2 separate regions of the Homo sapiens genome follow, and region 2 is linked to region 1. Evidence: fine-mapped QTL for protein levels in blood plasma. A gene starts in region 1. The other region holds a variant in brackets. All regions are shown on one strand. Distances are from middle to middle. Region 1 holds the start of DPT (dermatopontin). Region 2 has its middle 100 kb from the start of LINC00626.

The links. A credible set is the group of variants that fine-mapping cannot tell apart. PIP is the chance, under the fine-mapping model, that this variant and not a neighbour inherited with it causes the effect. Protein levels are from the aptamer-based SomaScan assay of Sun 2018.
Region 2: its variant is the best candidate, but not a certain one, in a credible set for the plasma level of the DPT protein (Sun 2018, PIP 0.89).

What each region holds. Positions count from the first base shown.
Region 1 is chr1:168,719,675-168,735,642 of GRCh38, forward strand. It overlaps DPT (dermatopontin), which reads right to left and starts at 9,532. Exons shown (of 4, transcript NM_001937.5): 1 at 9,196-9,532. The coding sequence starts at 9,500.
Region 2 is chr1:168,883,201-168,899,168 of GRCh38, forward strand. It overlaps the pseudogene SUMO1P2. Among named protein-coding and RNA genes, the nearest start is that of LINC00626, 100 kb to the left of the region's middle. The variant T/TTGTGTGTGTG (reference allele first, on the strand shown) is at 9,078.

The DNA.
Region 1 (15,968 bases):
TAATATCCTGGTGAATTGTATAACATGACCGCAGCTCTAAGGAAATAAGACTATTTCCTTAGAGCAGGAGGGCACTGGTACCTTACTTACAAGACTCTCCTTCCCATCTGAGAAGACATACTTTTTTTTTTTCTTACCACCTCTTTGAAGGCTGAGGTTCAATTTCAGTTTCAGAAACTGGAGTATTGTTAGCCCTGCTCCATCTGAAACTGGAAGCTTTCTAGAAGGAAAGTCACAAGGTAATTACTCCTCCTCTGAAAACACATTTGTGAACCTATTCTGAGAAAGTGGACTTTCTGAAAATGATTTATCTCAGGGTCATCACCCTGAAAGCTAAAACGGAAGACTTTCTCCTGTATCTGCAATAGTAAAACATAACAGCAGTGGGGTGCAGGGGAAAGAGCCCTTGTTGAGGAATCAGCAGACATGAGTTCTAGTCCTAGCCCTGACCTTTACATGCTTTGTGGAGCCTCACCTAAGGCACTGTGTGGAGTCAGTGATAATGCCTACAAAACTCTCGGCCAAGAGAGTAACTGGAAGAGCCAGGACCCAACTCAGATTCATCTGAGGTCAAAGCTCATGTTCATGAGCTCTCAAGAAATATAATAAATCTCTTCGAGATGGTCCCACAGCTCTGATTGGTATGCTGGACAGGACTTCTTCTTGTTGTCTGCATTCTTTACCAAGTCCAAAGCTATTGGACAGGCAGAATTACAGAGCATTTGCAAGGTGTGTGAGTGTCTGGTTTTGTTGGTGAACCCCTCTATACAATTTTAGAAGTTGGACTTGCTAAGAAGTTTGGACTTTAGGTGGTGTGGTGTGGGGTTGAGTCAAGTGATGAACAAGGTAAAAGGAAGCAGCACCATCTTGGTCAAGAACTCTCAAAATTTCATTAAATAGATAATAGATGGGCTGGTTGTGCTGGTCTTTTTTTTCCCAGCTTCACAGACACACAGGTGTTTCAAGGGCTGTTAGCCAGTTTCCAACCCCACTGCAGAGATGGACTATGAGAAGTTTTGCCCATGATCTAGACAAGTGGCTCACTCCATGTGGCACAGCATCCTTAACACTCCCAAATTTCTTTCCCGCCCCAAAGGTGGATGAGGTCTTAAATAGTACCAAAAGAGTTTCTTTCTTTTAGAGTAAAGCTTTGATTTTTGTTAATTCTATTTTCCCCAGAATAATTCTTTGAGTTGCTATCAGGCATTTATAAAAAGGCCCACAGAATTTTAGAATGTTCATTAAGTCTTTTGACAAATATTCACTAGAACTTACTCTATACCTGATGCTGCACTTGGTCTGGAATCTCTTCAGAAGACTGGTACTGATAAGTAAACACTATGACATTGGACAGGCAGAATTACCAGACACTGTAACTGATAAGCAGACACTATGATAATACAGATACTGGAAATAAGTAGACTGGTACCAAAGACAGAGGAGCAGAGAAATAGGAGAGTGGTTGGGGACAGTGGAGCAGTGAAGTGGCAAGGGACAGAGACAAACACAGTTGGGGGCAAGTTTGCCCAGTAAAAGAAGCCTTCAAAGTTCTGGATTTCTCTGCTAATTCCAAACAGAATTGTTCCATGACCCATCTCTCCCCTTCTGCTGATATTTATACCTACTTCTGTAAAACTAGGATGACAGTTCTTAACCTGACAGTATTACACAAAAACTAAAGAGATGCTATATATCAAGTGTAGCATAGAACCTGGCACAACGTATATAATTGAAAGGCAGGGGAAGTCATAGTTATTACTACCATGATGATAAAAGTACCTGTAATCTGATAGAAAGACAGGCTACATCCTAGTCACGAAACATCACTTTCAGTAAATATTGGAGCCTACATTAGAAATTGTCAGGATTGAACTTCTCCAATTAGACACTGAGAGGAGCCTCAGAAAGCACATATCAGAGCACAAAAGGCAATACCAAGCCTCTCCTCCTTCAAAGATCCTTCCTTTCTTGACAATTCCAAATCATACTAACTTTCCTTCCTTGTGACATGTTGATATCACCATTACACATTTCACCTAACACATACTGTCACTGAGTAGCCTCATGGGGCTACAATGCAAAGTTTTTGAACACTGCACCGTTTACTGCTCATCCTCCTGCCACCATGGTGGGGATATGAACAGTCTCTTTAAATAGTGTTAAGTTGCACACATTCTGCTCTCTTCCTGCCTGCATCTGGGTAAGAATTCTGCTGTCTTCTCCATGTCCAGGTTTTAAGTCTGCTAGTCTGTCTACAAGGTTTTAACAGTGAAGCAGAAATGACCTGCAGAACAGCATCTCTGGATAGAAAGACCTAGCACAGGACAGAGCGAGAATGCCTCCAAAAATACAAATTCCTCAGGTTTTTTTGGAAAAATACAGGCAGGAGAGGCTTCCCCTAAGGCCTCTGAGAAGATCTAGATTATCTTGTGAGATGCATTTATGTCCTGAGAGCAATTCCAGGTCACACAGGAATTGCATGAGCTACATTAGCATCACAGTAAATTTGACGTGAGTTTATGAATATCAATTATAATATTTTTAAACAAGAGATCTAATGCTATCTCCGTGTCTATTAAAATGTAATAAATATTCAAGACACTTATAATGTACACATAATATTTATAGACTGTGATTAAATTATATGTTCCAAAAGCAAAATGATATATTTCAGAGGCTCTGTAATCTAGCAATTTGGTTTTCAACTCCAGCTTTGTAATTTACCAACTGTGTGATACTTGTCTCCATGAGTCTCAGTTTACACAGAGTAGTCATGATAAAGTAATAATAAATAACCTTTATCAAGGACTTGCAATGTGCAGGCATTGTGCTTAGCACTATGCGTGCATTAATTATTTTAATTATCAAAACAATCCTATAAAATGGGTTCAAATAATGAGCTTCTCACCACGATCACCATTTTACGTATAAGGAAACTTAGGTTTAGAGAAGGTAAGTAATTCCCCTAAGGACACAAGTTAATGTACATATATTATCTTATTTAATTCTCACAACAACAGTTCTAGGGAGGTGTGTTTTAGTTGTGAAAGCTGAGTATTTCGGAGTTGAGACGACTTGAGTAAAGGTAGTAGTGGGGTCAGTGGGGCTGCATTTTGAGAATTGTTCTGACTCTAAACTTCATTAACTTTTCAATACTTCAAGATCCCTCAAAGAAACACACACACACACACACACACACACACACACACGATATCTTAACTCTGCAGAAATCTCTTATTGATTGAGAAGATTGTGTCCTGCAGGTTCCCAGACAGAAGCAAATCCCCTCCTGGGAGGAGGGAGCTTTTGCCATCCTTACAAGAGCAGCCAACAACCATTTTTGCAGAGCTCAAGTTCCCCCAGACAATTGATTCCTAGCACTTAGGAGAGTGACCTAGATGGAAAGTTGGCAAGAATCCTAGATCTGTCATAACCCTATTCTCCCACACTCAGCCTTCTTGCCCTCAGAAGTCATCCTTAGGTGGATTTGATATCTTTTTTAGGTCAGCACTCACTATGGCTTTATCCAGGAACAAAAATAACATCAGCATTTCATATCACCCACAGCACTGTGGAATCAGGCTGGCTGGCTCAGGTCCTCCGTCTGCCATCTGCTAGCCATGCAAGGGCAACCTCCTCATGTGTGAAACACCTGGATTCCAATACTGTTGTGAAGATCAAACAATATTAGCTTTTGAATAACTCATGGGCATAGACTGTATGTTATTCATCTCCATCTTCCTGGGGCCTGGGAAAGTTTGTGCTAATAAGCATTTGGTAGTGAATGAATAAACAAATGAACATATAAATGAGGAATACTCTATAAATCATAAATCACCACGTAGATCAGGGTTAGGGCCATAGAACCTATACTTATGTAAAGTTATGGATTTCTCTCCTAATTCCAAACAGAATTGCTCCATGACCCATCTCTCCCCTTCTACTGATATTTATATCTACTTTTGTAAAAAGAGGATGACAGTTCCTAACCTGACAGCAATGTTTTTATTCAGTTTTTAATTGCTTCAGTCTCATGGCCTTTATTCCTATTCTGTGAGGTAAGGAGGTTGCTCTAGATTGTGCCCAAGACCCCCTCCAGTGCTGGAATTCCACGATTCTGTTGTACTATATTTGTGCTGCATCCTTATATTTATTTTTTTAAATTTTATTTTGAAGTAATTTCAGATTTACAGAATGCTTGTAAAGACAGCACACAAAATTCATGTATACTCTTCACCCAGGTTCCTCTAATGTTAATTTTCATAACTCTAGAGTGTCTAGGAATGCTAAGAAATGCTAAGAAATTAACCTTGGTATAACACCAAACTGATTTCATCAGTTCTTCCACAAATGTCAAACCAGGATAGGTTACTGTGCAGCATTTAGCCCTTATGGCTTTTGAAATAAAGAGTTTACTTTCAATTTTTGAAATTGATCGAGACCTTAAGATTATTGAGAGAATGAAAACCTGATAAAAACTTCATTCTGCGGCGGCAAAGTGTGTCAGCCATCCTCTGTGCATGTTTTAGCGATCCTTAAGAAATCTTGAAAGACCATCCTGCATGTTGGTAAATGCAATAAATCAAAATGAGATGTGAACAATACAGTTGGAACCCCTACTATAGACACTGGAATATTGGGAATCAAAGACATAAGCAAAATGGTTCCCCTGTGGGAAAACCTGCAGGCCTCCTTGCGGAGGGCCGTGGGGACACTGGCTGGGGTTTGGACTGCTGATTTGGTCTTTCACTGCATATGTATTGAGGGCCTGTTATGTACCAGCACTTGTCTAGGCACTGGGGATACAGTGGTGAATGAGACAAAGCCCCTGTGTTCATGAAGCTTATATTTTAGTGAGGGAGACAAAACAAGAAACAAATGCCAATCAGGTAGTGACAAGGGCATTGTAGGAAACAAAGCAGGCTGAGGGAGTGGAGACAGCGAGATGTGTGGGGAGAGGAGGTGGTCTTGGAAAGCATCCCCGAGGAAGTGGGCCCTGTGAGTACTCAATACTCAGAACCATGACTCAGGACGACTGCCCTGAACTACACTGAGGCTTGGTCTTGCTTAGATTAGGGAAATAGTCCGACCATGGAAAACGGAGTTCCCACCCAACCTCTCCACCTTCAAATGCACCTCGATGCTGCCATAGCCCTGTTGCATAGATTCTTTCTCCTCTTCTCCAGTCTGTGGCTTGTCATTGAATTCATAAACTCAGCTCTAACACAAACTGCCACTCCAAAACTTCTCCTTGAGATTCTTTGAAGCCCGGGGTAAAAAGTAGATACCAATAAATGGACCACTTTTCCTCTGAACTCAGACTCCGTGGAAAGCTGGCTTGCCCAACATCAGCCACATCAATTTCAGATTCACTAAACTTTTACTACCTGCCCATGATGTGCTAGGCATTTGTTTTAGACTTCAATTTGCTTTAGAGTTTTCTTATACTTTATCCTACAAGTATCACAGTAACACAAGTAGCAGCTTGTGAGGTGGGAGTCACACCTTCCTTTTTCTTCCTTTGCTTTTCTTTCCTTTCCATTCCTTTCCTTTCCTTTCCTTTCCTTTCCTTTCCTTTCTCTTTCCCTTCCTTTCTTCCTTCCTTCTTTCCTTCCTTCCTTCAATCCTTCCTTCCTCCCTCCCTCCCTTCCTTCTCTCTCTCTCTTTCTTTCTTTCTTCTCTTTCTTTTTTGCCAGAATGAGATACCGAATGTCACAGATACAAGCAGGAGCTGTGAATCCAGGTTTCCTGCATCCAAGCCCAGGGCTCCTTCCGCTACACAGTAGCTCAATCTCACTAGAAAATTTCACCTTCATCTTATTCCACACAGGACCCAGTGCCCTACAGCCTGTGCTGACCCAAGTTAGAGCAGATTCCCTGAGAACAACCTAGGCATGCCCTGGGATGGTGAAATACCACTCATGGGGACCCAGGTAAGGCCTCCTGGTAGTTGTTAGTGCCAGAGACCATCATCCAAACTTCAGAAGCCGGCACTTGAAGAGGTGATTTTCAACAGAGAAACTGTGATCAATGGCAGCACCACAGACCACTCAGCTATGATGGCAACACCTTTTAAAGATGGCACTTTGATTAGAAAGATTTTCTTTTTAGCAGATCCTATGTGCTATTGTCAAGCCTATATTCGAGACTCCTCCCCTCTTTTAAAATAAACCTGAAAGCTAATTTGGTTATACAAGGCAGCCCAACTGCACAAAACCATCAACAACTGTTCCCTGAGAACAGACTAAGCCTGTAGCCAACGTCAGATGTAATAGCTCCCCAGCCCATAAGCAATTTCTTTCCTTACAGATTTTTCACTGAGACTGGAGGCTGAACTCAAAGGCATAATCATTTTTAAAAGTGCTTCCAGGGTAATTCGTGTCAGTCCTGGGGCAGCTGGATCTTATTGTAAAGAAGTTGTTTTGCATGTTTGTGAGTTTTCAACCCTGTGATTAGTAGACGGGGAGAAGGAGGCAACAGAGGGTGGAAGGAGGAAAGGAAACCAAAATTACTAGACACTGCACACCCAAAAATGCCGAGTAAGAGGAGGTGGAAGAGGTATCTCGCCTATCAGCTTTTCCCTTGACTCCCATGGGCCAAATAAAATCATGTTATTTCACCTTCTTCCTCTTTTGCTTTTCTTCAAATAGTTTGGGAGTTCATGACAAACCAGTCACAGTTGGCAAGTTTAAAACTAAACATCATTTGGCTTCTCTCTCTAGCAGGGATGAACACAAAGATCAACAGAATGCAAGAAAAAGCCAAGAGTGTTTTCAGGGGTGAGCCACAGCTCTGTGGAGCCTTCAGAGATCATGCAGCCTGACTGCTCACTTTCCAAATGAGGCGGGAGACTGGAGGGCTGAGCGTCTGGGCCAAGGTCACACCACAAGTCATTAGAACCAGGATCCAGACCCAGGCCTCCTGATTCAGAGCCTAGGGCTCTTCCTCTATGGCTTGGGGAACCATGGCTGAGTGCTGCTTGACTGTGGCACAAAAAACGGCTGTTAGAAAGGAGTCGCACCCATGCGATAGTGCTCCTGAGAGGTGAGGACTGGAGGGACAGTTGTAATTAGGTCATTGCCATGCTCCACATTAGGCAGTGGGCCTGGCTGTGAGGAGTCATGGAGACAACAATCAAGGTGAGCCTGGTCTCTGAATCAGCATCTGTCAGAAGGGGTTTTGAATAACTAAATCTGCTCACCAGAGGCCATGGGGGTGGATGAGAATGGCCCACAAAGGCTGTCCAAGCAGCCTCCACAGCCCCGGCACCCTCACCTGCTGCTGCCTGTGTGAGTCCTCTCCCCACCCCTTCTACAGTCCGGCTGAGCCCCTCCACAGTCCTGGTAACCAAGTAGGGATCATCCCTCTGGGGCTGGGCTTCTGCTGTGGTCTTGCAGGTCCCCACCCTCTCCAGGAGGAAGAACTGCCCTGAATCTGGTCCTGTGGCACTGGCTCTGCTGACAGAGTCAGCTGTCGGGTGGGAGCCCACTCTGGGTGGAGGCAGCAGCCTCTCAGGAGCCCGTCACTGTGGCAAAGTACAAACTCTTTGAAGCAAAGACTCTGTGGATCCAAACCCCAGCTTTCTAGCCGAGGAAATACTGGATCTCTAGACTGCAGTTTGTCTACCTATAAATGGGATATACCCTTGTTTTGAGCATTACACGAGATGATCCACATAAAGCACTTAGCATGGAGCCTGCTCAGGGTAAGCACTCAATAAATGGTAGCTGTTGTCATTACTTAAAGGCCCGCTCTCTTTCCTGGCTCCCCCACCCATCGGTGTTTCTTCCTCTTGGATTTCCCATCATCACCTCTCTACTGGTTGTGTCCCCCAGGGTTCTATGCTTTTTCTTTTTTCTATTTTCTTTTTTTTTTTTTTTTGAGGCAGAGTCTTGCTCTGCCACCCAGGAGGGAATACAGTGGTGCGAGCATGGCTCACTGCAGCCTCGACTCCCTGGGCTCAAGTGATCCTCCTACCTTAGCCTCCTGAGTAGCTGGGACCACAGGCTGCATGCAACTACACCGGGCTAATTTTTTTTTTTCTGTAGAGATAGGGTCTGGCTGTGTTCCCTAGGCTGGTCTCGAACTCTTGATCTCAAGTGATCCTCCCTCCCCAGCCTCCCAAAGTGTTTGGGATTACAGGCGTGAGCCACCACACCTGGCCAGATTTTGTGCTTGACCCCTCCAATCCCCACTACACTAAGTACTTGTTGCCACACATCTGGGTTGCTCTACAGATAGCACATGCAGCAGCCCTCCAGGTGGGCTTCCTCCTCCCTGGACTGCCTCCTCCGTTCTCTCCTCCAAGCCTCCTAGAGTGCTGGCTCCATCTAGGCTGTTGTAAATAATCAGCCTAGCAGTCAGTGCCTACTAGGATGAGCTCCTGACCAAGCACCTGGGCTGAGACCCAGCTGAGACAATCACACCCCACAAAAAAGTACAAGCTCGAAAAAATTCCATGCCACTGCTTAAGGCAGAATGCAGTCAGGGGAAGACAGCACCTCTCTCCAAAACCCTTTAGTAAACTATTTTCCAGCAATAAAACCCACTTTAAATTCAGGCAGAGAGAAGGACCTCAGTACTCATAATTGAGAGAGCACATTTAATCAAGGCAGTAGACAGCTATTTAATTCCACTTTCTTTTGCCTAAATGTCCTTGTCCCCTCTTTTCCATTCACTTGCTCTAAATCAATAGTTCTCAAACCCTCCGTGCTGAGAGATCAATTGTTTATTTTTCTTGTTCCCAAACTACTGTGGGCCAGTACTTTTGTAAAATGGTAAAAATAAATTTCTAAAAAAGAAAAATGCCATTCCGATGGCACAGAAAGTTTTAATTTCTATAAAGTTTATTACTTTCAGTTTCTGTACATATCTTTTGGTAGTCTGGTAAGCAAGCTTCTCGCCGACCTACACCAGCCCCTGGCCCAAACTGAGAGTAGGTAGAACAGCTTCTGGAAGGAACAGAGCCACAGAGGAGTCTGTCTCCCACAGACACTCCCCATCCCAGGTTTTTGTCCTGTCATGTAGTCCGCTCAGCAGCAGCCCTGCTCCACCCAGAGCATGCAGTGGTGAGGTTTGGGGTGGGATTTGCCCAGGCTTTGGTTACTGATATTCCTTGAGAGTCTAGCAGCCCCCAGGAGGAGGGATATGCAGAGATGTTCCCAGCCCCAGTGCAGTGCAGGGACTGGCCCTTACCATTCCATGCCAGCCCTGTTGATCTCCTCCCACCAGCACTCCGTGGGTTCCCCGAGGCTCTGTGGCGTGGGCATGCAGGCGTAGTTCCATTGTCTGTCAGAACCTTCCTTCTTGCTGAAGATGCTCCTCACGGCCACTATCACCTGCCCCTGGGGACACTGGTAGCTGAAGCCTTGCCGGTTCAAATTCACCCACCCATCATCGCTGTAGTCATGATACTGCTGGTATGGGTATCCATAATCGCCATACTGGCCCCAGGCCATGGTGACTAGGGGCAGAAGTACCCAGAGAAGACTGAGGTCCATGCTGCCTGGGATTTTGGCAAACAATGTCACTCTAAGATTGCTGGTCTGACCGTTTTATATAGCTGCCGCTGACATGTGGCTTCCAGATGTGGGTGAGAAGGATCCAACTGCAGTGTGTCATTGCTTAAGCAAAACTTTTCCATGCTGAGATGTCAGCCATAAGGACATTCAGCTTGTTTTAAGGTGGAATTCTAGGAATATACCAGCAGCATGTAAGTCTAAGAAGCTCCCTGGAGAAAGAACAACTTTGTATCTAGATTATAAAAGCCAACTGCTGCTCTACCCTGTAGAAATATTCACTTGAAAAACACTGATTAGTAGCATATTTGTCCCTCACCTTTCAGCACCTCACCCCTTTCTGTCCTACCCTACCCGCTACTAGCAAACCCCTGTATTTGTTCTCCAAACTAGCCTTCCGGGCCACACAAATACCCAGACAGTGATTTCAAAATACCGAAATCATAGACTGAAGTAACAGAGCCATCTAGGATTTCTGTAAGGCTGAATGCCTGTTTTTTTTTTTAAGTTGTCAATCCAACACTTTTTAACCCTTGAGTATAAGCGCGGGTATACCAGTTTGCAGGGCTACTCTGAGAACTCATAAGTTGCATAAGGAAGTACTATGGGCCCATGGGGAGATAAGTTGGATATGATTTCTACACTTAAGCATTCTACCATGCTGCTGAAATTGGACCCAGTCAAGTCTAGAAAGTGTGCTCTGCTCTCAAAATGTAATGGGTTTAATCTAAATAAACCCCCTATTTATCCTTCAGTATTTTTGCCCTCACATTGAATTTTCTTTTCATTGAGTTATAATTTACATATAATTAATTCACCTTTTAAAATACATAATGTACAGTAACATAGCCAGCACCCTAATCAAGACTTAGAACAGTTCCATCAATCCAAAACATCCCCTTATATCCCTTTGCAGTCAAATCTTCCCAAACACCCAGCCATTGGTAACCACTGATTTACTTTCTGTCTCTATGGTTTTGCCTTTTCCAGAATGTCAAGTAAATGGAATCATACCACACGTAGCCTTTCATGTCCATCTTTCACTTAGCATAATGCTTTTAAGGTTCATCCATTTTAAAATTCAACATCTCATTGTATGTGTTAGTATTTTGTTTCTTGTTATTGTTGAGTAATATTCCATAGCATGGATGTACCACAGATTGTTTATACATTTACTAGTTGAAAGACATTTGGGTTGTTTCCAGTTTTTGAAAATTCATTACTTTTTATGTAATGAATTTTATATTCATTATATTTTATATAATGAATTACATAAATGTAATTATAAAGTTGATATAAACATCTATGTATAGGTTTTTGTGTGAACAAATTTTTATTTCATTTGGGTCAATACCTAGGAGTGAGATTGCTGGTTCACAAGGTAATGTATGTTTAACTTTAAAAGAAACTACTGAGGCCGGGTGTGGTGGCTCATGCTTGTAATCCCAGCACTTTAGGAGGCCGAGGCGGGCGGATCACGAGGTCAGGAGATCGAGACCATCCTGGCTAACATGGTGAAACCCCGCCTCTACTAAAAATACAAAAAATTAGCCAGGCTTAGTGGCGGGCGCCTGTAGTCCCAGCTACTCGGGAGGCTGAGACAGGAGAATGGCGTGAACCCGAGAAGCGGAGCTTGCAGTGAGCCGAGATTGTGCCACTGCACTCCAGCCTGGGCTACAGAGCGAGACTCCGTCTCAAAAAAACAAAAAAAAGAAAGCAAGAAACTACCTAGCTGATTTCCAAAGTGGTGATACCATTGCCCACCACTACCAGAAAATTGCCATTAAAAAATTTTAGCTATTCAAATAGGTTTGTAGTGATATTTCAGTGTGGTTGTGATTTTCATTTCTCTAATGATCCATGATTTTGAGCATCTTTTCATGTGCTCATTACCCATTCCATGCATCCGTTGATGATTTGGCTTTTCAAATTTTTTGAAACCTTTGGGCATCTCTTAAGCACATAGTATTTCCCATTTCTCATCAGTATTGTTCTTAAAGTTTCTTAGAATTGTGATCATAGACCAATTCTATCTACAGCCTCTGTGAAGTTTGTTAAAATGTAGACAGTGGCTCTTCTCCAGGCCTGCTAAATCATAACCTCACAAGGGGTGCTCAGGTATTTATATTTTAAAAAATTTTCCAGGTGATTCTTATTCACATCAATTGCTAAGAGTCACCTTCCTAAAGGAATGTGGAGCCAGAGAAAAATCACACTATTAATCCCACCATCTGCCTAGCCTGTGGCACATTTACCAGACGGTATTCAGTCTAGATCAAACACCAAGATAGTCTTGAAAGGGAAAGACAGTCATACATGAGAATAAAGCAACAAGTAACTCGTGTGTGTGTGTGTGTGTGTGTGTGTTTGTGTGTGTGTTGGGCATGCAGTTTTCTTTGATGATCATGGTTACTGAAGCGAGGGGGAGAGGATCTGGGCTGAACAGCTATGTGAGGCTTAGTTTTGTTTTTAGCACCATCTTCTCCCACCACTTCCATCCGTAAGTAACTGCCCAGTGCTGGCATCGGAATTCTTCCTAGCTTAGAAGGATCTCTCTGATTCATGATATGCTGAAGCAATCATTCTCCACCTTATCAGCATTTAAGGATTACCTGGAAAGCTTTTGGAAACCTCCAGAGTCTAAGCAATTTCTGGACCAATCAGATCAGAAGCTTCTGAGCAGGGTCCTGACAATGACGTCCTTTGAAACCTTCCCTATAGGCTTCTCACCGGAAGCCAGGGTTGAGAACCTCTATGCTAGAGGGTTTTTTTTTTTTTTTAATTTTTTCAGTTTATCATCCTGATGCTCATGAGTTGTATCTTGCATTCTGGACATGATATGAGCTATTTTAAACCTTAAAGAGCTCTAAGAGACAAAGCAGATTATCATAAACACTCATCTTTATTATACATTTGTTTTCCAACAATTTCCAGGGCCTCTGCCTGATCTCCACTCTCCGCAGATTTCTTTCAACTACAGCTAGAACTACCTCAGCTGGATTCCCTTTAATGTGCAAAAATAAATATCTTCATGCTATGGTCCAGTTTTAATATAGATTTCTGTTACTTAAAGCTGAAAGCAACCTAACTCATCCAGTGTCTCAGGAGATTCCAGAAACTGCTGATGCCTTTGAGAGAGATTCTGGTGGCCGCATAGAGAATGATTTCCATACGCAGACATTGAGAACATAAGATTAATGCATTTACAGTTGACCATGTGTTTTCAACTAGGTTACTATGTTATCTTCCTCATAACTTTATATGTTAGTGAGGCATTATTGGAATTAGTTTCTCACAGATGGGGAAACTGTGGTGAGAGAACATTTTGGGCCAAATTTCTAGAACTGGAAGGATATGACCCCATGTCTTCTGATTCCCATTCTGCAATGCCTTCCATCATTTCATCAAAGTTACAGTTACTAATTATAACATTTATGAATAATTGTCAAATAATGCACTTATAAAGTATGTATATTAACATACACATATAACTAATTTGCGCTACGCATTTCTGCTGTTATTTGAAAAGTCTACTCAATAGACCCTGGGGACTTTAAAGAACTAAATGTTCAATAAGTAGTTTTTGGGGTGTTGCTCTAAAACCAACAGCATCAGCGTCACCTGGGAACTTGTTAGAAATGCAAATCCTCCGGCCCCTCTCAGACCTACTGAATCAGACACTGTAGGAGTAGAGCCCGGCAATGTGTGTTTGAACAAGCCCTTTAGGTAACTTGATACTCACTAAAGTGAGAATTACCGTATAGCAGATAATGCAGAACACTCTACCCAAATTCCAGGTGTCACTTCTCGAGAAGTTATGTAGTGATACTGAAGCCTAGATAACTCAGTTCACTAATTTTGATTCTGGCGCCCACACAATTCACCACTGGGCTATCTTACCTCCTAGTAGATAATGGACTTGAGATATTTTGGAGATTCTGACAAAGAGCATTCAAAAGTCTCCATGATTCTTCTTTTTCTTCTACCTCTTATTCTTCTTTTCTCTCTCCTTATCCTCCTCCTTCTTCGGCTGTATTGAGATATAATTAACATACCATACAATTCACCACTTAAGGTATATAATTCAATATATCCCTTAAATTAGTATGTTCACAGAGTTTATGCAACCACCACCGCAAGCAATTTTAGAATATTTTAACCACCCAAGAAACCCTGAACACATCAGTAGTCGCTCTCCATTTCCCTTCATCCTTTAGCCCTAGGCAACAATCAATCTACTTTGTGTCTCTATGGATTTGTCTGTTCTGGATATTTCGTATGAATAGAATCATTCAATATGTGGTCTTTCATGAATAGGTTCTTTCATTTAGCATAGGTTTTATGTTAGCGGTTCATAAGGTTCATCCATTTTGCAGCATGTATCACTAGTTCATTTCTTTATAATGCCAGATAATACTCTACAGTATACATCTACCATATATTATTTATCCATTTACAAGTTGATGGACATTTGAGTTGTTTCCACTTTTTGGCTATTATGAACAGTGTTGCTACAAACATGTATGTAGAAGTATATGTGTGGACATATGTTTTCATTTCTCTCAGGTATATACTCAGGAGTGGAATTGCTGGGTTATACGGTAATTTTGTGTTTAATCTTTTAATGACCTGCCAAACTGTTTTCCAAAGCAATCGTGCCATTTTACATTCTTACCAGCAGCGTATGAGAGCTCCAATTTCTTCTCCACATCCTCACCAACGCTTATTAAGTCTGGGTTCTTCTGAAAGGTGTAGGAACTCATAGCCACTCTGGTGACACTTTTTGCGACCTGGATCCACTCCTGTCTGGCAGCTTTCTCAAACATATAATCCCTTTTTGAGAGATTCTGAATATAATACTTTGCCCGATTTTAATTGAGAGCACCTAGAATGGCCCTAGAATCAACTCATTCCTAAGTTACTTTTACACTTTCTGGATTGGGGTAGCTGCTATTGTATATTGGGAGGGAATGATGTAGACTTACAGAGGTCACCCTGGAGCAGACCTGATCCACTGGAGAATTCCAGATGTGACGTGCTGGCCCCGAGGAGGGCTGCTCAGACAGGAGAAGGCAAGGCTCATGCTAGTGCCTGGGTGAAGCTGGTAGCCCCAGATGAATGGATGCTTAACCCAAAATATTGACTGTGAGTTATTGGAGGATTCCATTTTGCCTGCTGTCTTTTTTCCCTTTTAACTCCTGTGTATAATCAGGACTTGGCTGCAGCTCTAGGTGGCCAGAGTACTATCACAAACTTCCCAGCAAGTGTATGCTGAGCCATCCGTGGCTTTCCTCCAAAATGAGTCTGTGCCAGTTTCACGGTTTAGCTGAGAGAGGCATTCAATAGCCTCAGTACACCCAGGCTGTCCTCACCTTCAGCAAACTTGCCACCCTTGCATGACCCATTGCTTTTTAAGATCATTTGTGGAACCCACTGTCATATCATTTGGGGTTAGCCCCGAGGGCCACCAATAAGGTTAAAAATGCTCATACTGGAAGCAGCAGGAGAAAGAGTGACAATCCAAGTTGAGGAAATAGAGAAGATTGGGAGGAGTAGAATAAGGTGCACCTACTGTGTGCTAAATACTGTACTATGTGCTTTACATATGATAGACCAATTGACCTTCCAGCAGTTCTAAGAAAATTAGGTTCAGAGATCACTGGTAGCTCACCCCAATTTTCACAGCTAGTACAGAAAGGTGACTTGAATTTGTTAGTAACTATACTACCCCAAGTGCCAAATGGTCACAGCAGGGCCTCAGAGCAGTGGCAGATGGTTGTGAGAAGAGCAGAGACTCCTAAAATCCAAATATCTAAGTTAAAGTTCTGGTTCTGCAAGTAATCAAAATGACCTTTTGATTTGGGTCAGATAGTTTTTTGTTGTGGAGGCTGGCTGCCCTGTGTATTATAGGATGTTGGACAGCATCCCTGGCCTCTATCCACTAGATGCCAGTAGCATCTTCTCTTCCACCACTGTGACAATCAAAAATGTTCCAGACATTGCTAAATGTCTCCTGGAGGGAAAAATCATCTCTGGTTGAGAACCACTGAATCAGACAAAACCCATAACCTTTGTTTTATCATCTGTAAAATGGAGGATAATCACAACACCAGCCACTTACCACGAGATTATTGTGACAGTCATATCAAATAGTGGTCTTGCAAAGACTTTGTCAAGTGTAAAGCTTGAAACAAATGTACGTTGTTAGTCTGACCTCAGGGTAACACTAGAAGCTGGAGTTGAGGGAACAATCATGCATATTAGTGTAATGAACAGCCCCAGGACTCCGCAGGGCAGAAGAGTGTTCTTGTGCAGATGATGACTGGAGGGGTTTGGGAATGAGTAAAGCTGGGGGAATATGGCTCCACCACTCTCTGGAGTTCCATTAATATGTGGATGAATGTCAATCGCAGAGGTTCCTGAGAGTGAGTTTGCAGGGAGAGGTGTCAG
Region 2 (15,968 bases), 160 kb after region 1:
TAATTTAGGTAAAATGGAAAGTTTTTTATTTTTTTATTTTTTATTTTTATTTTTATTATACGTTAAGTTTTAGGGTACATGTGCACAACGTGCAGGTTTGTTACATATGTATACATGTGCCATGTTGGTGTGCTGCAGCCATTAACTAGTCATTTACATTAGGTATATCTCCTAATGCTATCACTCCCCCCTCCCCCGACCCCACAACAGTCCCCGGTGTGTGATGTTCCCCTTCCTCTGTCCATGTGTTCTCATTGTTCAATTCCCACCTACGAGTGAGAACATGCAGTGTTTGGTATTCTGTGCTTGTGATAGTTTGCTGAGAATGATAGTTTCCAGCTTCATCTACGTCTCTACAAAGGACATGAAATCATCATTTTTTATGGCTGCATAGTATTCCATGGTGTATATGTGCCACATTTTCTTTATTATTATTATTATTATTATACTTTAAGTTTTAGGGTACATGTGCACAATGTGCAGGTTAGTTACATATGTATACATGTGCCATGCTGGTGTGCTGCACCCATTGACTCGTCATTTAGCATTAGGTATATCTCCTAATGCTATCCCTCCCCCATCCCCCCACCCCACAACAGTCCCCAGAGTGTGATGTTCCCCTTCCTGTGTCCATGTGTTCTCATTGTTCAATTCCCATCTATGAGTGAGAACATGCGGTGTTTGGTTTTTTGTCCTTGCCATAGTTTACTGAGAATGATGATTTCCAGTTTCATCCATGTCCCTACAAAGGACATGAACTCATCATTTTTTATGGCTGCATAGTATTCCATGGTGTATATGTGCCACATTTTCTTAATCCAGTCTATCATTGTTGGACATTTGGATTGGTTCCAAGTCTTTGCTATTGTGAATAGTGCTGCAATAAACATACATGTGCATGTGTCTTTATAGCAGCATGATTTATAGTCCTTTGGGTATATACCCAGTAATGGGATGGCTGGGTCAAATGCTATTTCTAGTTCTAGATCCCTGAGGAATCGCCACACTGACTTCCACAATGGTTGAACTAGTTTACAGTCCCACCAACAGTGTCAAAGTGTTCCTATTTCTCCACATCCTCTCCAGCACCTGTTGTTTGCTGACTTTTTAATGATTGCCATTCTAACTGATGTGAGATGGTATCTCATTGTGGTTTTGATTTGCATTTCTCTGATATATGTGCCACATTTTCTTAATCCAGTCTATGATTGTTGGACATTTGGGTTTGTTTCAAGTCTTTGCTATTGTGAATAGTGCCGCAATAAACATATGTATGCATGTGTCTTTATAGCAGCATGTTTTATAATCCTTTGGGCATATACCCAGTAATGGGATGGCTGGGTCAAATAGTATTTCTAGTTCTAGATCCCCGAGGAATCACCACACTGACTTCCACAATGGTTAAACTAGTTTACAGTCCCACCAACAGTGTAAAAGTGTTCCTATTTCTCCACATCCTCTCCAGCACCTGTTGTTTCCTGACTTTTTAATGATCGCCATTCTAACTGGTGTGAGATGGTATCTCATTGTAGTTTTGATTTGCATGTCTCTGATGGCCAGTGCTGATGAGCATTTTTTCATGTGTATGTTGGCTGCATAAATGTCTTCTTTTGAGAAGTGTCTGTTCATATCCTTTGCCCACTTTTTGATGGGATTGTTTGCTTTCTTCTTGTAAATTTGTTTGAGTTCTTTGTAGATTCTGGATATTAGCCCTTTGTCAGATGAGTAGATGGCAAAACTTTTCTCCCATTCTGTAGGTTGCCTGTTCACTCTAATGGTAGTTTCTTTTGCTGTGCAGAAGCTCTTTAGTTTAATTAGATCCTATTTGTCAATTTTGGCTTTTGCTGCCATTGCTATTGATGTTTTAGACATGAAGTCCTTCCCATGCCTATGTCCTGAATGGTAATGCCTAGGTTTTCTTCTAGGGTTTTTATGGTTTTAGGTCTAACATTTAAGTTTTTAATCCATCTTGAATTAATTTTTGTATAAGGTGTAAGGAAGGGATCCAGTTTCAGTTTTCTATATATGGCTAGCCAGTTTTCCCAGCACCATTTATTAAATAGGGAATCCTTTCCCCATTTCTTGTTTTTGTCAGATTTGTCAAAGATCAGATAGTTGTAGATATGCGGCATGATTTCTGAGAGTTCTGTTCTGTTCCATTGGTCTATATCTCTGTTTTGGTACCAGTACCATGCTGCTTTGGTTACTGTAGCTTTGTAGTATAGTTTGAAGTTACGTAGCGTGATGCCTCCAGCTTTGTTCTTTTGGCTTAGGATTGACTGGGCAATGTGGGCTCTTCTTTGGTTCCATATGAACTTTAAAGTAGTTTTTTCAATTCTGTGAAGAAAGTCATTGGTAGCTTGATGGGGATGGCATTGAATCTATAAATTACCTTGGGCAGTATGGCTATTTTCACAATATTGATTCTTCCTACCCATGAGCATGGAATGTTCTTCCATTTGTTTGTATCCTCTTTTATTTCATTGAACAGTGGTTTGTAGTTCTCCTTGAAGAGGTCCTTCACATCCCTTGTAAGTTGGATTCCTAGGTATTTTATTCTCTTTGAAGCAATTGTGAATGGGAGTTCACTCATGATTTGGGTCTCTGTTTGTCTGTTATTGGTGTATAAGAATGCTTGTGATTTTTGTACATTGATTTTGTATCCTGAGACTTTGCTGAAGTTGCCTATCAGCTTAAGGAGATTTTGGGCTGAGACAATGGGGTTTTCTAGATATACAATCATGTCATCTGCAAACAGGGACAATTTGACTTCCTCTTTTCCTAACTGAATGCCCTTTATTTCCTTCTCCTGCCTGATTGCCCTGGCCAGAACTTCCAACACTATGTTGAATAGGAGTGGTGAGAGAGGGCATCCCTGCCTTGTGTGAAATTGAGGCAATAATTAATAGCTTACCAACCAAAAAAAGTCTAGGACCAGATGGATTCACAGCCGAATTCTACCAGAGGTACAAGGAGGAGCTAGTACCATTCCTTCTGAAACTATTCCAATCAATAGAAAAAGAGGGAATCCTCCCTAACTCATTTTATGAGGCCAGCATTATCCTTATACTAAAGCCTGGCAGAGACACAACAAAAAAAGAGAATTTTAGACCAATATCCCTGAAGAACATTGATGCAAAAATCCTCAATAAAATACTGGCAAACTGAATCCAGCAGCACATCAAAAAGCTTATCCACCATGATCAAGTGGGCTTCATTCCTGGGATGCAAGGCTAGTTCAACATACGCAAATCAATAAACGTAATCCAGCATATAAACAGAACCAATGACAAAAACCACATGATTATCTCCATAGATGCAGAAAAGGCCTTTGACAAAATTCAAGAAGGCTTCATGCTAAAAACTTTCAATAAATTAGGTATTGATGGGATGTATCTCAAAATAATTAGAGCTATTTATGACAAACCCACAGCCAATATCATACTGAATGGGCAAAAACTGGAAGCATTCCCTTTGAAAACTGGAAAGTTTTTTTAAAAGAAGCAAACTACCCAAGTCATTCAAAAACTAAAAGATAACCTGAATAGTTTTTTGTCTATATTTGAAGGAAATTGAACTTATAATTAAAAATTCTTCCCCACGCAATACCCCAGGCCCAGATGATTTCACAGTTGAATTCTTTCAAACATTTATTGAAGAAATAATGTCAATTCTTTCTTTTTTGTTTGTCCAAGATGGTGGATTAGAGGCATTGCCAGCATACCTCTCCCACTTGGAAGGACAAAGTCGTGTGTAGAGATTCACACTGTGAACTTTTTTCAGGAAGTGATGCAGAAACTGAACAGGGTAACCAAAGGAATCTGTAGACCCTTTGAAGAAAGCAACAGGCTGCAGCCTACACAGTGAGTCAGGTAAAGGGCTATGAGTCCCTAGGGTGAGAGGAGAGACTGCCCCTGGGACACACAGCCCCTCCAGGGACCCTGGAAGTCTAGGTCCCAGGGGAAGGCCTTAACCCTACCCAGTACAGGAACCAACCTGGGGAGGCACATGGAATATAAAAGTAGGAGCAGCACAGGAAGACCCTTGCATGCACTCCCAGTTTCCAGTGCAGACGGAGGGAAAGCATTTTTCACTGTTCCTCACAGAGGACCCTGCAGAGCACAGCCAAATAGTTCAGGCAGGGGTCTCAGGTTGAAATAAGCCCCCAACTGGGTTTCACGATATAATCTTGGGTAAGGATGAACTCCCTTAGCCAGGGCTGGGGCAGGGGAGTGAAAATTGTGCTCCAGCTGCTAGTCCAGGAACCACAAGTGCAGAAGCTGGGTGCCCAGCTTCGCAGTGGATAGGGAGGGGCATGGACTGAAAGCCACAGTTGCCATCTCCAGAGGGAAAGCATATGCTTTGGAGCAGTTGTGAGTTCTGAATGCAGGCCACCTGGAACTGAGCCCACCGCTGCCAGTGGAACACTGCACGAGTGGTTATGCCTCGCCAAGTGTGTGGGATCTGTGTGGGGCTTACCATCACCTGCTACTCCCCTCTCCCTGTGCTAACTCTTCTGTGCAGCAGAGGCAGCAATACTACCCTCTGGAATATCAACCCAGTGGCCTGAGAACTGCTCCTGTCTTCTGATACCCACAAGGGCTGCTGCTTACCCTGCATGAGACTCACAGTACAAACCTACCTGACTCAGCCCCCACCTGGCTTTGCCCCACAACCTGCCCTGGTAACTTAATACAAAAGATAGAATCTTTTGGGAGCTATATGGCTTCTTTCATTGCCTGAGAAACCAGAGTATCCTCCACTTCCCAGGCAAAATAAGGCAAGCAAAAATCCCACTGCTACCACTGCAGCTGATGCTCTTTTGCAAGCACCACCTCCTAGCTGGAGACCAACCAATGCAGTCCATTACAGCATCTCCTGAGAGAATAACACTGCACCCAGGAAGGAGAAAACAGCTGCATGATCTGAGCTATCACCACTGCCTGCACCACTCTGGCTAACCAGGAGGTCCTGAGTCTGTCTATATGACTACTTCATTACTACTTTAACTGGCATTCGAGAAAGCCAATACACTAAGGCTAACAATAACCAAGGAATCTCACAGAGTATACATCATTCCCCTGCCACTCCCATTAGAGCTGGTGCTGCTACCCACTGCTGGGAGACTTGAGGTCATATCACTTGATCCCTTGCAGACATTTTCCAGCTCCTGCCTGGAGTGTGGCAACCTTACTGGGTGGCTAGACCCAGAGGAGCAACAACACTCACAATAGTCTGTCTCCCAGGTACTCCCACTCTTAGGGGAAGAGGGAGTGTACCACAGCAAGGGAATACCCTGTGAGACAAAGTAATCTGTATGGCAGGCCTTGAGCAGCAGATCTTTCCACTGGTGGGAAGTTTCTTTCAGCAGAGGCAGAGTTGCAGTGCTGGGCTCAGCAGGGAGCATCTTCAGTTCTAACCCAACAGTCAGACAGCCCTGGTGTGTGTAAAGGGTATTGGAGAAGGGGACATCTTTCCCCCCTTGTTCACTATTGCACGCACAGTTGGGGCTTCTTCTATGGGAACTTGGCATGGGTGCAACTATAGACAGCCTTTCTCAAACACGTTGAAGTGACTGTATTCCTGCAGAAGGAACACCCTCCAGGTTCAGGCTTACAAGAGAGACAGAGTCACATTTCCTCTTTACTTGGAATATCAACACTCCTACAGATGAAAAGAGGCACCTGTGTGATCTGAATAGCTACAGCACTGAGACAGGGGTGTGTCTAAGAGTTAGATAACTCTCTTGCTAACCTGTCAGGGGACCTGAGGTGGCTCCAACCCTTCCCCCTGTTAAGACCTCAGTGTGACTCACTGAGAGCTCCTCCAGCCCCCTCTGTCAAGGCTTGGACATCTGTCTACCATTGGGTATTGCATTTGCCCACCTGCTTTAGCCACAACTGGTTGCTAACCAGAGACATCTCCCCTACTGGCCTGAAGCCTAAACCATCAAACCAGTAAATAAAATACTGGGGAAAAATAAATAAATAAATAAAAAGGTGCACACCACATGGTTATATGATAAGCTTCGAGAGACCTCTACCATTCCAACCCCAAAGGAGACAGTGAACTTGCTCACATACTGAGCACATTGCTACTACAACCAGCATATGAGAAAGCCACTATACAAAGACTCTGTATTATCAAGGAACTCTTACAGAGTCTTCACCCCTGAAAGCATCAAGAACCAAATATAATTAACTATAAGCATTAAAGTCACATCCTTAAGGGGAAAAAAGAAATTAACAAACAAATGAAGAAACACAGTTACATAAAACATAAATTCAAGAATAATGAGAAGAAATAGGCTACCCAAATGAGAAGAAACTCTGGTAATATGACAAAACAGGATTCTATAACACCTCTAAAGATAACACTAGCTCTTCAGCAATAGATCCAAACCAAGATGAAATCTTTGAAATACCAGATAAGGAATTCAGACAGTCAATTATTAAGCTACTCAAGGGGATTTCAGGGAAAGGTGAAAACCATCATAAAGAAATTTAGAAAGCATTTCAGGATATGAATGAAAAATTTTCTAGAAAGACAGATATTTTAAAGAAAAACCAATCAGAACTTCTGGAAATGAAAGACATACTTAGGGAATTACACAATGCTGTGGAAAGTTTTAACAATAGACTACAACAAGTAGAAGAAAGAATTTCAGAGCTCAAAGACAAGGCTTTTGAATTAACCTAATCAGACAAAAATAAAGAAAAGATAATCAAAAGAAATGAACGAAGTCTTCAAGAAATATGGGATTATGTAGAATGGTCAAACCTAAGAATAATTGTTGTTCCTAAGGAAGAGGAGAACACAGTAAGTCTGGGAAACATATTTCAGGGAATAATTGAAGAAAAATTCCCTGGTCTGGCTAGAGATCTAAATATCCAAATCCAAGAGGATCAAAGAACTCCTGGGAAATTCATTGCAAAAAGATCTTCACCAAGGCCTGTAGTCATCAGGCTATCTAAAGTCAACATGATAAAAAGAATTCTAAGTGCACTAAAACAAAAGTATCAGGTAACCCACAAAGGAAAACCTTTCAGACTAATAGCGGACTTCTCGGCAGAAACCTTACAGGCCAGAGAAGATTGGGGTTCTAACTTCAACCCCTTTAAACAGAACAACTGTTAGCTAAGAACTTTGTATCCAGCAAATCTGTTTCATAAATGAAGGTGAAATAAATCATTTTCAGACAAACAAATGCTGAGGGAATTTGCCACCACCAGACCAGCCCTACAATAAATGCTAGAAGGAGTTCTAAACCTTGAAATAAAAGCCAAATATGCACCAAAATAGAACCTCTTGAAAGCTTAAAACTCACAAGGGCTATAAACAATAACACAATGAAAAAAATCAAACTTAGGTAACAACATGATAAAGAGAACAGTAACTCACATCTCAATATTTCCATTGAATGTAAATGGCCTAAATGCTACACTTAAAAGATACAGAATGGCAGAAAGGATTTTTAAAAATCACAAACCAAATATTTGCTGTCTTCAACAGGCTCACCTAACATGTAAGAATTCATATAAACTCAAGGTAAAAGGGTGTAAAAAGATATTCCATGCAAATGGAAAGCAAAAGTGAGCAGGAATAGCTATTCTTATATTAGGAAAACAAAAAACAGACTTCAAAGGGTTAATGGTAAACTATATAATGATAAAAGGATCAATCCAACAGAAGATATTACATTCCTAAATTTATATATTCCTAACACTGTAGATCCCAGATTCATAAAACAATTACGACTAGACCTCAGAAATGAGATAGACAGCAACACAATAGTAGTGGGAGACTTCAATACACCACTGACAGTACTAGACAGATCTTTGAAAAAGAAAGTCAAGAAAGAAACTATGGACTTAAAAGGCATGCTAGAACAAATGGACTTAACAGATATTTACAGAACATTCTACCCAAGAACTGCAGAATATACATTCTACTGATAAGCACATGGAACATTCTCCAAGATAAACCATATGACAGGCCACAAAACACGTCTCAATAAATTTTTAAAAATTGAAATCATATCAAGTATCTTCTCAGACCACAGCAGAATAAAACTAGAAATCAAATCTAAAAGGAATCCTCAAAATTATAATGTGGAATAACTGGAACTGTCTCATACATTACAACAGGTACATCTATTATACATCTATTATACTTTGAAAATAATTTTGGCAGTTTCTTATAAAGTTAACCCTTACCAAATAATCTAATAATTCCATTCCTACATATTTACCCAAGAGAAATGAAAATGAGCACACAAAGACTTGTACACTAATGGTCATAGAAGCTTTATTTATCATAGTAAGCAAATTGAAACAACCCAAATGCCCAACAACTAGTGAATGGAAAACCAAATTGTAGTATATCTATACAATGGAATACTATTCAGCAACACAAAGGAACAAACTATTGATACATCCAACAACATGGACGAATCTCAAAACCATTATGCTAGACACTAGCATAGAAACCTACACACTATAAGAATCTGTTTACATGAAATGTTAGAAAAAGCAAAACTATAGCACCAGAAAGCAGATAGTGGTTATTAGGGGTCAGGGAGTCAGAGGAAGGGAATACAAAAAAGCATAGAAATTTTGGGGTTGATCAAAATATTCTTTATTTTAATTGTGGTGGTGGTTACACAGGTATAAACAGTTGTCAAAAGTCATCAAATTAGACATTTAAATTAGTGAATTTTGTTGTATGTAAATTATCTCCCGATAAAGCTTCTAAAAATAACATAATTTGATTACAGATAATTTTGCTGTATTTCTACTTTATAGTTTTTCTATGGTTTTAAAAACTAAAAAATTTTTACAATTTATTTTCTACTTTCTAACTTAATCTCAAATAATAAACATTCCCCATATTACTAAAATCTCTGTAATCATTTAATTCCTGCATAATATTCCAATTATACATATGCCACCCTTAATTAATCATTCCTTACTGGTAGGAATTTAGATTGTTTTCTATTTTCCTCTAAACTAATACTCTGATAATACTTTGTATACATATTCTTGTATATTTTGGGGGCTTTTTTCTTATGTTTTCTT[T/TTGTGTGTGTG]TGTGTGTGTGTATGTGTGTGTGTGTGTGTGTGTGTGTGTGAGACGGAGTCTTGCACTGTCGCCTAGGCTGGAGTGCAGTGGCATGATCTCGGCTCACTGCAAGCTCTACCTCCCAGGTTCATGCCATTCTCCTGCCTCAGCCTCCCAAGTAGCTGGGACTACAGGTGCCCGCTACCACGCCCAGCTAATTTTTTGTGTTTTTAGTAGAGACGGGGTTTCACCGTGTTAGCCAGGATGGTCTCGATCTCCTGACCTTGTGATCCACCCACCTCGGCCTCCCAAAGTGCTGGGAATACAGGCGTGAACCACCGCACCCGGCCTTTCTTTTATTTTCAAAGATAAAATTATTAGGAAAAAGTATAAGAACATTTTAAGAATATTTAAACATACCGTTAATTTTTTTCCAGGAAGATTGTACTGATTCAGCTCTCACTAGTAGTACATCGAAACAGCAATTTTACTGCACTCCTGCCACAACTGAATATTATCATTGTTTTAAATATTTGTTTAAACTCTCTTCTGAAACTTTACACTTCAGCTCAGCATTGGCTTGTAACTCTTCTCTGTATTTCTGTGCATAGGTAGTCCATATTATTCACCCTCCTTTGTGCAGGGTCCATTTCATCCATCCAAATATCCCAAGGATCTGGGATATTTGCAGATTCCCTGGGTCATGTAAGGGTCTACTCTGACATCATCTCATGTTATTCTACAGCTTGAGTCTGTCTCCATGTGTTACTTCTGTCTGGCCAGTGATCTCTCAGTGTGTTTTTGATTCCTCAGTGTTTATATCATCTCTAGTGATTAAAATTTTAACATAGCACAACACAGCATAGACACGGCACCTCTTTTCCTATGATGCAGCTCAGCAACATAGCATGATTCATCTTCCATGTAGAACAGCTGTGATTTGTGCTTCGTTGATGTCTGCCTCCCTACTTTTCCTCATAGCTCTCCTCTCATCTCCCCCATTTAGCATCTTTCACCGTTACAAGCAATGATCAGATAAACAGAGAGATGAAGGTAGTACAAAAGAAATCTCAGCCCTATCCTCCCTGTGGCTATGTTGGATCAATTTTCAGCCCATCTTCCCTAGTCCCTTCTCTGCTGGACTTAATGTTCCCTTCCTCCTGCCAGCTTAATCCTATCCAGGTCCTGAGTCAGTACTGACTACAGCTGCCTTAGTTCCAGCAGGCTCCAACTGGTTCTGGAGTTGGTCTGGGATATGATCATCTTTTATTTCTGACTCAATGTAAGACTCAGCTTGGGTATGTACTCCTCTGTATTAGAGCTCCCAGGATGGCTTGATGCCATTCTCGTGTGCTGCAGTGGCACCGTCTGCTTGCCTCTGTTATTATATACTTCCCGCTTGATTCCAACTGCCTGGTGACAAGGCAGCCTTCCCCACTGGAGATGAGAGCTCCAGGAGGTCAGGGGCTAGCTCATCATCCATGTATCCCTGGCAATTTACACAGTCCCTGGAGCCTGGCCCAAGCCTCCCTGTTTCTACTCTTGTTTTCCTACAACATACTCCTCACACAGCAGCCATGATGATCATTTAGAAACATAAATCATCCTTTCCCTGTAATTTACCAGTTTTCAGAGCAAGGGGTTGGTGCCCTACTTTTCTGAAATGGTATTTGTTGTGTTTTTGTTTTGGCTGGTGGTTTTGTGGTTCTCTAGCAGTTTTTATTTTTTGTCTGTGTTATTATGAACTAATAGGCTTAAAATATATTCAATATGAGATAGTCAATTTCAGTCACTATTGTTTTTGATGTAAAGATTGTCCCATCTTGCACCGGCAGAAGTTCTTTCAAACTAGTTCCTGGGAGATCTTTTTGACACAGCCCTGTTATCTTTGAGAGATTCTTTATTGCCACCGCAAGGTTTATCATCAGGTTCATCTTACTTATTTCACCCTGGACTTGGACTCAGCCCTTCTCCATGAATCTCTGGTCCCTTTTAGTGTTAATGTTACTTAGAAACCATAATCTGAACACGTATGGATATTTCTTGCCACTGGTTTGTCATTATTTCTAAGAATTTGAGTGGACAAAATTAGGGAATACTCATTTTGGTTGTCCTGTTTTACTACATTTCAAAATAAAAAAAATCCCTAGTTGATGAGGAACATCTTTTTCCTTAGAGAAGAATTATAGTTATTAAATGTAGAAGAATTAGTGAAATTAGAAAATCCCCATTTAACAACACTAATGAAATAATTGATTCAGGCAATAAACATTAACAGATGCTAAAACCATTAAGAGAAGAGATGATAGGGACTTTTACAACGGAAGAATCAGGCTGTCTCATCTGAAGCCATTGATCAATGTAAGCGGTTTCAAAATGAGACAACCAGACATTATGTGCTACATGATGTAATGCAATAAAAAATACACAACATCACTTACAAACTTTTCTTGCCAAAAAATGTTAAACTTGAGTTGAATCCAGACTTACGTCTAACTTTTAGTTTGCAGACCAGTTGGAGAGCAAATAGACAAATCCAGAATTTGAACCAATTTGTAGGACAGCTAACTCAGTTTCTTCCAGAAGTCAAGGACCAGAAAAAAAAGGAGTGTGTGTGGGCGGGGGGAATCTGTTCTAAATTAAAAGAGACTTAAAAGACATCCCAAATGCCATGATTAGATCTCAACTGGATCCTGATTCAAATAAATCAATTGTAAATGGCAATGGAGGTTTTCACTGAGCAAGGTGACCATGGATGATTTCTTTCTTCTTTATATTTCCCTGGACAACTTTCTTTTCTTTCTTTTTTTTTTTTTTTTTTCTGAGACAGAGTCTTGCTCTGTCACCCAGGGTGGAGTGCAGTGGCGCGATCTCGGCTCATTGCAAGCTCTGCCTCTCAGGTTCACGCCATTCTCCTGCCTCAGCCTCCTGAGTAGCTGGGACTACAGGCACCCACCACCACGTCCGGCTAATTTTTTGCATTTTTATTAGAGATGGGGTTTCACCGTGTTAGCCAGGATGGTCTCGATCTCCTGACCTCGTGATCCACCCGCCTCAGCCTCCCAAAGTGCTGGGATTACAGGTGTGAGCCACCGTGCCTGGCCACTTCTCTGGACAACTTTCTATTAGCCCCTTGCTGCAATAGACATAGCTCACATCATAATCATATATTAAATTTGGAAAATAAAAATAGGAATAATCTCTTCCAGGCTTCTCTCACATTCACACCAACAATGGTTATTATTTTATGCTATCAATGTCAAATCACTCTAAATGGCTTATCCCTGCTGTTTTAAGTGGCATTGCTCTCACTGCTAGAGAGGCAGAGCATCCTCTCATATGCTCATTGGCCATTTATACTTCTCCTTTTGTAAATTACTTTTTTTGATGGTCTTGTCTATATTACAAACTTATCTTTCTATCATTGCTGTATAGTTTCATAGAAACTTGGGTAGTGTGGTGTGATCATTAACAGGAAAAGGTGAAGAAACTACTGAGGCTTGGCAGTTCCAGGGATTTCAGTGTCCTGGGTCCCTGAAAACCCAGCCTCTGTAATTCTCAGGGCAAGCATGCTTGCACAACCCCAGGGAGTGTCATTCACCAAAATACAGTGTGCTACTCTGTTCTGAAAGTCTACATGGAGAACCGGTGGGAGAATCTCAGTTTTCCTTGGGTGCAGACCTCTATATGAGATAAAATGTAAAATAAGTCTGGCAAGTGGGAAAACTTTAAAATACGGATTACATTTTAACACAGAAAAAAATAAAGAACATGTAACAAACCATCAGAGAGATTTATTTATGAAAAATTTAGCTCCTCCTATTCAAACAACATTTAGTTTCAGAAAGGTAGTAAGAGCCCAAGGAAACTTTAACCAGATATCACTCAGCTTCAGCAAAGCATGGGAGGACACTTTCCTGCTCGTAGTCTTATTGTTAGGGTGTCTCCTCTATGTTCTTGCATTTTTTCTCTTTATTTTCTGTTCCCATGATCACTTTCTGACTTTGTCTCCAGGATTCTGTTATTAAAACTATCCAGTATAAAAGAGATTCCCTTTTCCTCATCTTTTTCTCTTGAATGTTTCTGAGTTAGTCTGCCAGAAGTCAAGTTCTAAGAAAGCAGGACAATTTCAGGGAATTATCATATATTTATGTGATGCTGTGGCAGGGGGCAGATACACAATATAGAGGGGTCAATGGATTAAGAAAAATAAAAGGTCAGCAGCCATATGCTTGAAAGAAATTAGCTCAGGAAAACTAATTTGCTTGAGTTGGGAGAAGCAAGGGAGATTCAGAGAGAACCACAAAGAGGAAACATTGAGCATCTATTCTGTACCATCCCTTATTGACATTGCATTTCATTCTCATAATTCTAGGAGATAGACATGCTATCTGTATTTCACAAAAGAGAAAACGGAAATTCAGAAAGGCCAAGTGAGTTGCCAAATGTTACACAGCTTGTAGGTGTTGTTAGCACAATTCAACACCAACTCTGTTTAGCCTTGAATGCCATACATACTCTTTCTAAAATCACCCTGCTTCCAAAAACGGATAGAAAAAGAAAATGGACCATGAAGAAATCATGGATTCTAGGATATCAATTTTTGTAAAGTAATAAAAGTGGCATTTGTTCAAAGTTAAACAAGAGTTCTGTAGAATCATATTAGGCTGGTGCACCAACTTTACCTATGACCACTTTTCCTTAAGAACCACAGGTAGCAGGATTGTTCAGACTATGCAACTGGCAAACTGAGAAAAGATTTAAGTCAAACTTACTCAGGTATCCAGAAATGGGATTATTTTAATTCTATGGGAAAGTTCATTTCAAGAATGGTCATGGTCTGAGGAAAAGAGGAAAAATAGAAAGTAGAACATGTATTTATGGTTTATACCTCCTGAGGATATTGTGGTAGAAAACAATTTAAATGCCTGTAAACTTTGGCAGGTGATACTGACTTTATCTGAAATCTCCTCTATCACCTTTTTCATCTCCTTGAAGAACTCCTATGGATCCTTAAAAGCTAAGCTCAGACGTTACCTGCTCAATGCTTCAGAGTTAATCAGCCTGTTCCTTATCATCATTTCTGTATTTCTCTCTTATTTTGAGGCTCCTGTTGGCTCATGTACTACAGCTCTAGCATTCTTCACTGTTGACATAGATGGATTCTACTGACCTCCTACTGCAAGTGATGGTGATGACTAGTGATGTCATCACTATCATGGATAGCTCATAATCTCTTCTCTAGAAGTGTTACATCACCCTGTGTCTCTCATGCCCAGAAGGAAAGCCCATTCAGTCTCCAATCTGTGCAACACCTCTCTCTAACCACAGCCCCTGATCCTTTCAGCTTTCTTACTTTTAATCCCATTCTTTCACGTGAATGAGCTGTCCAAGTCATTTGCTTAGACGCTGTCAATTGCTTAGACCCTGTGTCTTATCTCTCTCACTACTCTTTTGTCAATATTCTTAACTATCATCCAGTTTTTGAGTTCATTGCACCTGCCCAGAAAAGTCATAACCTTGGATCAATCAAGCTACTCACCTTCTCACTGCCATACTTGAATTGCTGAGTGCCAGGAAAAAAAGGTAACATACCCATGCAGATTATTGACAGTATGAAGTCATTCTTTTAAACTTTAGCTTGACCATGTAGCTATGCAGCAGTCCTTCTCTGAGACTCAAGTCAGCCCAATCCTATTACTCTACAGTAGCTCTTACAGATCCTTACCATTTTTTAGAAGCCACCTACCTACCACCCTCTCCATTATTCTTGGATGCCACAGCTCTCACCTACCGCATAGAGGCTTCTTGACTGCACCCTGCCCCTTCCCTCATGCCTTTAGAAACACTGCATAGCAGTGACCCCTGGGTGAAGCCCCTGTCACCTATGTAAGATCAGGAGGCAAAACCTTCAACTGATGACTTGGAGGATAAGAAGGAATGAGAATATGTTAAACTCAAAGTCATTGGACAGGATAGCAGCGAGATTCACTTCAAAGTGAAAATGACAACACATCTCAAGAAACTCAAAGAATCATACTGTCAAAGGCAGGGAGTTCCAATGAATTCACTCAGATTTGTCTTTGAAGATCAGAGAATTGCTGCTACTCATACTATAAAAGAACTGGGAATGGAGTAAGAAGATGTGATTGAAGTTTATCATGAGCAAATGAGGTCATTCAGTAGTTTAGGTATTCTTTTATTTGTTTTTCTTTTCCCTCAATCATTTTTTTATTTTTAAAATAGTTCTTTTGTAATGTGGTGCTCAAAATGGAATTGAAAACTGGCACTCCATCTCTTTAAAACATCTGGTAATTTGAATTCTAGTGCTCATTATTCATTATCATTTGCTTTCATTGTGCTGATTTTTGGTGATCAAGCCTCAGTTCCCTTCGTATTGCCCTCTCCTTTTTAAAAATTACATGTGTGCACAGAGAGACCACCTTTTTTAGGACTATGCATTTTCAGGCTTGTAGCAATAAGTAAGATCGACCAAGGCAAGTGTTTGTAAAGACTTCCCAATTGGCCCTAAAGTTCTAGCATGTGATTGCTTCACTCCTGGACTGTGACTTTCACTGGGAGATGTAAGCTTTTCAGAGAACTGAACTGTGGAAAAATGACCTTTCCTTAACTTGAAGATAGCTTTAAAATTAGAGTCTAGACCAAAAGAAGAGGAATAGCATATTGGAGTCAAGATGACAGATAAGGTGAGAGTAATGACTAACTCCAAAGATGGCTTCACTGAAAAGAATGCATTTTAAGATCTAAAAAATAAAAATCTTGTCAGAAGATTCCATCATCCTGAATCATAAATCAGACAATGTGACTCTCTTCCTGTCCTCAAGATCCTTCAACATAGCCATTGGAGGAGTATGATTATTTTTTAGTTATTGAAGGATTGTAAGGTAAAATAAAAGATG